2 separate regions of the Homo sapiens genome follow, and region 1 is linked to region 2. The links come from fine-mapping of genetic effects on gene expression. Tissue or cell type: whole blood. Region 2 holds a variant in brackets; the other region holds the start of a gene. All regions are shown on one strand. Distances are between the middles of the regions.

Region 1 (4,163 bases), 570 kb after region 2:
GTGCATGAAGAGCACTTTGCCCTTTGTGCTGTTTCTTAGGAGAGAAGATGAAATTCCAGTATGAAAGGCACTCTGTACTAGAAGGAAAGGCAACATCCTAAGCTTCAAAGACAAGAAGTAGAATACTGTACAGAACTTGCTAAAATTTATTATTTAAGTCTCCCCACATAATTTAGTCACACAATGTCAATTTAATTCTTGGACCCAGCAGAGACCCTAACAGAATGGAGGTGTAATTTTTCTACCCCTAGAGTAGAGCATGGTACCATGTATACTATGTAATGTTAATATAATATATAGTTCATACTCTGTATTGTGTCTACTAAATATAGTATGTTAATTTGGATGTATACTATTTATGTAGTATATAGTTGATTCAAATAAATACTGTTTAATGATTCCGTTCTTTTACTTAAGAATATATTATGTGTCCCAAAGTCCTGGAATTACAGGTATGAGCCACCGCGGATCACCTGAGGTCAGGAGTTCAAGACCAGCCTGGCTAACATGGCAAAACCCCGTTTCTACTAAAAAATACAAAAAAATTGGCCAGGCATGGTGGCGTGCGCCTGTAGTCCCAGCTACTCAGGAGGCTAAGGCGCGAGAATCGTTTGAACCCGGGCGGCGAAGGTTGCAGTGAGCCGAGATGGTGCCACTGCACTCCAGCCTGGGTGACAGAATGAGACTATGTCTCAAAAAAAAAAAAAAAAGAATATATTATGTGTATGTTTCTATATATGCACACAAAATATTTCTGTTTTGAAGGACTTAATACTTGTAGCATTTAGTCAGAAAAGACATGTGCAACAGTTTAAGAAATTACATGCACATTTTCACATAGATCTCAAGGTAAAATCTAACGCACAGATTTTTGTGTAGCACCTTTCATACGGCAGTATGATAACTGGGTTGTGTTAAGAGTACCATTCTAGAACCTCTTTAAAAAGTTCCTAGAGCCACACATGGGTAACATGTTAACATTAAGTAGCCAATGGTGTTCAATGAACAGTCGTTTCACATACTCATGACTATGTTTTAACCATAACTTCATGGCAGAACGACTGTAAATTGGCAGGTAGCAGCAGAGCAACCATAGGCCATTGTGCCTGAGTCACCGCTCGTGTGATGCCCCTGCACAAACTGATGAATGTCTGTAGTAGCTCGATGTTGTAGTGTCATAACTACAGCTTAATATGCGCAACTATGAAGAAGCTGAGGAGTCAGGAGTATCTGAAAACTCTTACAGTCACACGGAAGAAAAATTCCCTGTTCATCCAGCAGAAGCACTTAGGCAGGAAACCACATATTCGACACCCGGAAGTGCGAAACGCGGGTAACGCAGTGGGAGGTGAAACCGACGAGGGTGCAGGCAGCACCAGGCGGCGAACCAGGCCCGCTGGGTGGTGGCTGGAGGCTGCGGGTGGGGACAAAAGCGCGGCAGACGAGACAAAAGGGAGCGCACTCACCAGAACCACTCGCTACCGAAGCTGGGCACGGAAAACACTCCCCAGTGGATGAAGATGCCGAACTTGGCCTGGTCAAACCACGCGGGCAGCTGGCGGGCGTCCAGGGACTCCCAGGTGGGGTCGAAGCGCGTGGCGCTGTGGGCAGGGCACGGCGGCGGCGGCAGCAGCAGCAACAGCAACAGCAGCAACGGGAACGCGAGCCTGGGGAGCTCCTGGGGCCGCATGTCCCGGCGCAGGCCGGCTGTCCTCTCTGCAGGCTCCCGCGGCCTCGGGAGCGCTGTTCTTCCGTCTCTGCCGCTGAGTATGCCGCGCCGCGGTCACCTGACCAAGTCGGACTTGGAAACCGGCCACCCTTCCCCCTCTGGGGCGGGAGTGGCCACTCTCCCGGGCGTTCCGAATGACCTCAGGAGGGCTGCATCGCTCAGCATAACTAAGGCCAGCATTACCCCAAAGCCAGCTGGGACGGCTTTGCTAAGGCTCTGTCCTCTTGAGGGGAAAATATGAGTCTGAGTCAGGGCCTTGTGGCCAGCGCCTCTGCCCTCAAGCAGACACGACCCTGACCAAGAAACTGCCCAAGAAGACAATGCCCCCAGCCCACCCTGGTGGCTGCTCCACACGTCCGAAGCGTGCACGAGAAGGTCAAGGCAGGAACTTCAGCCGGGTCTCGCCATGATGGAACATGGAAAGCAACCTAGATCCTTCTCGGCCTCTGTATCAGCTCCCAAGATCCTGCATGTTAGAACCGTGGTTGTCAACCTTGAATTTGTATCAGATGAAATTCCAAGAGCTTCAGATTCAGCAGTTAGGTTGGGGCCCAAGAATTTGCGTTTCTACCCAGTTCCTACTTCTAGGATGTTCTGATGTTGGGCCGGGCGCGGTGGCTCACTCCTGTAATCCCAACACTTTGGGAGGCCGAGGCGGGCGGATCACAAGGTCAGAAGATCGAGACCATCCTGACTAACACGGTGAAACCCCGTCCCTACTAAAAATACAAAAAATTAGCGGGACGTGGTGGCGGACGCCTGTAGTCCCAGTTACTCGGGAGGCTGAGGCAGGAGAATCGCTTGAACCCGGGAGGCAGTTACAGTGAGCAGAGACGGTGCCACTGCACTCCAGCCTGGGCTACAGAGTGAGACTCCATCTCAAAAAAAAAAAAAAAAAGAAAGAAAACAAAATTGTGATGTTTCTGATTGGTGGTCCAAACTTTCCTGAGAACCACTGCATTGAACAAGGAGATGATCTGAGACAGGTGAAACCAGTGGAATGAATGTTTAAGAAACCTGCAAGCTTGGGAAAAAAGGCCAGCAACTTGGAAAGATTAATCAAAAGGATATTTGGGAAGCTTATCACCTCCACCTCTTGTTTGGTTTGTTTGTTTGTTTGTTTGTTTGTTTGTTTGTTTGTTTTTGAGACAGAGTCTCGCTCTCTCGCCCAGGCTTGAGTGCAGTAACATGATCTAGGCTCACTGCAGCCTCTGCCTCCCGGGTTCAAGGATTCTCCTGCCTCAGCCTCCAGAGTAGCTGGGACTACAGGCACATGCCACTGTGCCAGACTAATTTTTGTATTTTTCTTTTCTTTTTTAGTAGAGACAGGGTTTCACCATGTTGGACAAGCTGGTCTCAAACTCTTGACCTCAGGTGATCTGCCCGCCTTGGCCTCCCAAAGTGCTAGAATTACAGGCATGAGCCACCAAGCCCAGCCTCTCCTCCACCTCGTAAGTGTTTTCAAAGTAAAGCCAGAATCCTCAACTGCTTCTGCCCCCATGAAATCATTACCCTTCAATGAGCCAATTCAAATGCTGCTTCTTTTGTGAAGCTTTCTGCCACCACCCTTCCCTCCCAGAATGTTGTACTTTCCCTGATCTGCTTCATAACACCTCCTTCCAAGCACACATAGGATTTCACGCATCCTCTAGTAGCTAGGTGGTACAGGTCTGATTTCCCATCAGACTGTGAGCTTTTTGAGGGCATTCATAATGACCTTCTTTTCTGTAGTGCCTACAATTACAGCAGAAAAGCAGCACTCAAAATGTTTGTTGAAGCTCTCCAGTGAACTGGGGTTCTAATTATTGAGTGAAGAACTTGACACTAAGTGGCTGTTGCCTGCATTATCCCAACCCATCTCTGCAGAGAGATGGGAGCAGCAGAGGGCGCTGTCACTGCAGGTGTAGGGGCATTTTTCCTCTCCATGACATGCCAGATGGCCCCCCGGGGCCACAGCTCCACCGTAAGAGTCCCCAATTTTGTTTTGTTTTTTTACAGTGAGGGTGTTCTAGAGGAAAGGGCTCAACGAATCCAATTGCAATAGCTCCAGTTTGTGATAAAGATGACAATTTTTTTTTATTTGAGACAGAGTCTGGTTCTGTTGCCCAGGCTGGAGTGCAGTGGCACAGTGTTGACTCACTGCCACCTCCACCCCCGGGGATTCAAGCAATTATCGTGTCTCAGCCTCCCGAGTAGCTGGGATTACAGACCCCAACCTCCAGCTAACTTTTGTATTTTCACCATGTTGGCAAGGCTGGTTTTGAACCCCTGATCTCAAGTCATCCTCCTGCCTCAGCCTCTCAAAGTGCTGGGATTACAGGCATGAGCCACGGTGCCTGGGCTGACAAATATTTATTATTGAGTTTGTGGAACCCAGAATGATCTAGGGCCTCAGTGGCCACTGAACCCTGGGGCACACTTGAACAAAAATATG
Region 2 (4,163 bases):
AGATCTCTTGTGAATTATTGAGGTCCAGCTTTAGGGTTGGGGGCGAGTACCAATATTCATTTGGAGGTAAATTGAGTTATTTTTAAAATGGCAGAAAAGGAAGGAGAAAAATCAGCTCAAATTTTCCATTATAATGAAAGTACAGGAAACAAGCCTTTCTATATTCATTTTAGGCCTAAATAACTCTGCAGAGAATAAGGGTTTTGCAATGTCAGTTGCACACACAACTTCCTGTGTGAATGCTAAGCCATTACAGGTGTCCTAAGGCCTCCAGTGAAACCTATTATCAAGAGATTCCTCTGGTCTCCTCGAAGTCATCCCCAGCGCCCCCCATCCGCCGCCCACACATTATTGCTTCTCTCCTCCAAGTGTCTTGATTAAGGACCCTCTCTCTTCTCCGCACTCCCGAGGTTAAAGTGCCCCCGTTCCCTTGGTGTAGCTAGTTACAAGCTTTCCCGTTAGGGAAGACTAGTGCCTGCAGTCCTTTTTAGTTAGATGCTTTTAAGTCAGAGATGAGAGGAGCCACTTGAAGAAACCCTCCTTCCCTTCTTCCTTTCCCCCACTGGGAACCAAGTCCCTGAAGGACAACACCCAGGGACGCTTCCTGACCTTCTATCCCCTCACCCAATTTGGGCTTGGAGGGTTGGGGTCGCATTTTCTCATGTCCTCTGCTGCACTGGATGTGTTATGTAAGAGGGACAGAACGCGGGAGGCACATGCGTATAAAGCGCACCGATCTGTGATAACAGCTGGGGTAGCAGAGCGGATCTGGAGTCCACCCCCCCCCCCCACCAAATACGACAGACCCCACACATGCACATCAGCACCCCCTCCCCCACACACCCACACACACACACACACACGCACACACCCAGAGCAATGTTTTCCTGTCTCACCCCTACCAGTACCAGAGGCACAGAATGGAAAGGCGGGGGGTGGGGGTGAAAGGAGGTGAAAGAGGAGGAGGAGCAGCAGCAGCACATCTGCTTTGATAGCAGCCGGCAGTGCCGCCGCGGCAGAGAGCCCCTCGTTAACCCCCTTCCTGTGGCTGCACCACGTCATGGAACATTCCCGGAACGGGCCAACGTTCCACCCACTTCAGGGAACAGACATAAAGGCGCAGACCCAGTTCCCCACAGTGCACAGCCCAAACACACATGTCCCTTCCCGATCCCCCGCCAGACGGACAGACAAACACGCATGCAAACCGCCCCCACCCGTCTCCACGCGCCCGGGTCCAGCCGGCAGCGGCCAGAGCCGCTCTGCAGCCGGTGCACCCGCAAGGCGAGGGCGCCTCCGCCTGAACCTTCCATCGAGACAGTCCCCTCCTTCCTCGCTTCCTTCCTTCGCTCCTTCCTTCCTTCCTTCCTTGCCCGGGAGGTAAAGGGAGTCACTGAAATGCCCAGAGCCAGCGCCTTCGCTGCGCTCGCTCGGCCGCAGGCCGGCGGCCCGGGCCTCGCGCCGCCAGCCCGCCCGGCCGCCTGCGCCGCGCGCCGCGGCCCCCTCCCCCGCTACCTGACAACGGGCCGCCGCCGGCCGCCGCAGCCGCAGCGGTGGCCGGGCCGTGCGCGCCGGTGCACGTCGCTCATTAGTAAGCAGGCACATTCCTGCCTCCAGCGCTCCCGCGCGGCCCCCTCCCCCCAGGACATTACGCAAAGCAGCCTCCCCTCATCTGCATAGATCCGCGGCCAGGGTATTCCCCGCATTTCCCCACGCGCCCGACACCCCTCCCGCGGTCTCCCCCATCCCCGCCCCCTCCGACCCTCACCCTCGGGCCACCGGGAAGGGGCTGGGGGCACACGCCGGGGAGCGGGGGACGGAGTTCGGCGGCGGCGATTCCAATATAAAGTGAAACAAGCTCCCAGCGCCGAAGGAGGCAGGAAAAACCCAGCGTCCAGGCCACTTACCGAGCCGAGGAGGGACCTAGATTCCCGCCGCTCCGCTCTCGCGGTGGCCGGTCCGCCCTCCGCGCACCCCGAGGCTGCACCCAGCACCCCAGACGCGAGACGTGGAGGAACGCTGTGAACGAGCCGGGAGACCCTCCAAGTTGCTCTGGGCTCCGTGGAGCGTCAAGGTCCAAGACACAACTTGGCAAAGACTTGTGCCACAGTCACCGAAGATGTTTGTGCGGAGACCCTCCTGCGGGGAACGACGGCGCTCGGCGGCGCCCCGCTCTCCTCCTCTCCACCCCCTCACCTCCAGCCCGCCTCCCGCCGGCCGCCCGCCTCCGGGCCGCGAGCCCCTCGGGCGGCTGTCAGCTCCCGGCCGCCGCCGGGTGACAGGGGCGGGAGGAGGGCGCGACGCGGCGGCCCGAGCCCCAGCGGGCGAGGGGGAT[C/G]CTCGCAGCCGCGGCGGCCGCTCACCTGGAAAGTCACCGCTGAGGAGGAGGAGAAGGAGGACGGGGAGGAGGAGGGAGAGGAGGAGGGGGAGGAAACCCCCCTGGTGCCCTTGTTCTCGCTGCCGCGGCGGCCGCTCCTCGCCAAGGCTGAGCGTGTCTGGTGGGGGGTGTCTGGTAGCATTTCCTTAAGGACAGAGGGAGGGCGGGCGCGGAGGGAGGGAAAAGATCCCGACCGCCAGCCCAGGCTCCTCTTGCCTTTATTTATTTTTCTGACACTGTACGGAGATGGGCCCGGGGCAGGGGCCGCCGGGCTCAGGCGGGAGCCGCGAGGCCCGGGCCGCAGCTGTCTGCGTGCGGGAGCCGCAGCGGCCGCCTCCCCTCCCGGGCTGTGGACGCACCGGGTTATTCCTGGCAGCGCCTCCCCGAACAGAAGTTACTAGGAGGAGTGCGCGGCGAGGGCGGACGGGGGGAGAGGCGGAGGGAGGGAGGGAGGAAGAGGGAGAGACTCAGCCAACGACGTCATCGGATCCCCCAGCGCGTCCCAGGGAGGGAGGCTGAACCAGAAAAACCAGTCTGGAGCCAGTGAGCGAGAGAGGGATGTGCGGCGCGCGGGGCGACGGGGGAGGGAGGCGGTCGGGAGGGCAGGGCCGGGCCCCACGGCTGCCGCTGCGGGCGGGGAGATCGCGGCCGCGCACTCGCTCGGTCGGAGCGGGGAACTCCCCGGAGAGCTGGTCTCTACTTGTCATGCAAAAAAACTTGGGCATCTCTAGGAGCCTGAGAATTTCCTTTAAGGATGTGGAAACGTCCTCCGTCCCCACCCCTTCCCCATTTCCCAGAGAATCGTTGTCTGCCTTCCTGACGAACGGAATTGTATAATTAGTAGTGCCCTTAGATTTGGAACCAGTACTCCGGATCCCTGGCCTCTCCTCGCCCCCTGCCTCTACTCACAATTATGTTATCGGTCAAGAAAAGCAAAATCAGACTGTGGCTCCCGGCTGGGTTTCTGGAGCTTTGTAGGGTTTTACTAGCACTTTCCGTGCCCCTGCGGGCGCGCGAACTATTCACGTGCTCGAAACGCCCGGATTACCTTCCCTGAGGTCACTCACCAGGGTGCCCCCGGCACCCCCAGTTCGGGGACCGCGGCCCGCCCTCGCCAGGGGATTCAAATAGGTGTGGGCAGCGGCGCGAAGAGCAGCTGCCGGTTTCCTGGTGGGCCGCGCTGGAACCTCGGGGCGAGCTGCCACCTTCAGCCTGTGCGCTTCCCTCTCCACGGAAGGGACCGGAGTTGAAATCACAACCAACCCTGGGAGAGCGGGGCCGGGAGGCGGGGGAATCCCAGGCGAGTGGGAGCCGAAGCTCTGGGCTTCCTCCCCGGCCGGGCGACACCCGGGGGACACCGGGGCTCTCTCGGGCCGTTACCCTGCCTATGTGGACTGGTGTGCACCCTCGGGGGAGGTTCCTAGGGTGCCACGGTGCCCGAGCGCGACGAGTGACTGCTGGGGAGGGGGGCCGGGTCCCGGAGCGCCTCCTCCGGGTGGTCTCCCCCCCAGCGGGGACCGCGCGCAGCACCTCGCGGGCGCCCCAGCCCCCGCACCCTGCGGAGCAGAGCCGAGCGCCCAGGACGCCGCGGGCCCCAGCGGTCCTCCCCACCCCCTGGCCGCGCCGCCGCCCTGCCCGGGGCGGAGTAAACAAGAGACGCGCAAGATTTGACCTGGCGCGACCCGGCTTTCTGGCCGGGGTTCCCCCTGAGCAGGTGACTCCGTGGGAGGGGTGGAAATGAGTCTCTGGAATTCCGGGCCAAAGACAATAACTGTGGTTCTGCTTTTAA

What was found. PIP is the estimated chance that this variant, and not a neighbour inherited with it, causes the effect.
Region 1: it holds the start of FUCA2, and the variant in region 2 is fine-mapped to the expression of FUCA2 in whole blood (INTERVAL, PIP above 0.99).

What each region holds. Positions count from the first base shown.
Region 1 is chr6:143,509,945-143,514,107 of GRCh38, forward strand. It overlaps FUCA2 (alpha-L-fucosidase 2), which reads right to left and starts at 1,776. Exons shown (of 7, transcript NM_032020.5): 1 at 1,467-1,776. The coding sequence starts at 1,690. LOC105378035 (a long non-coding RNA gene) reads left to right here and starts at 1,841. Exons shown (of 4, transcript XR_007059796.1): 1 at 1,841-2,832; 2 at 3,050-4,163. RefSeq lists a silencer at 1,009-1,212 and enhancers at 1,413-2,075, 1,635-1,764, 1,875-2,054, 2,076-2,736.
Region 2 is chr6:142,943,584-142,947,746 of GRCh38, forward strand. HIVEP2 (HIVEP zinc finger 2) reads right to left here and starts at 1,593. Exons shown (of 10, transcript NM_006734.4): 1 at 1,516-1,593. HIVEP2-DT (HIVEP2 divergent transcript) reads left to right here and starts at 2,906. Exons shown (of 3, transcript XR_001744397.3): 1 at 2,906-4,163. RefSeq lists silencers at 1,223-1,292, 1,433-1,532, 1,733-1,962, 2,193-2,822, 2,873-3,092 and 1 more and an enhancer at 4,123-4,163. The variant C/G (reference allele first, on the strand shown) is at 2,336.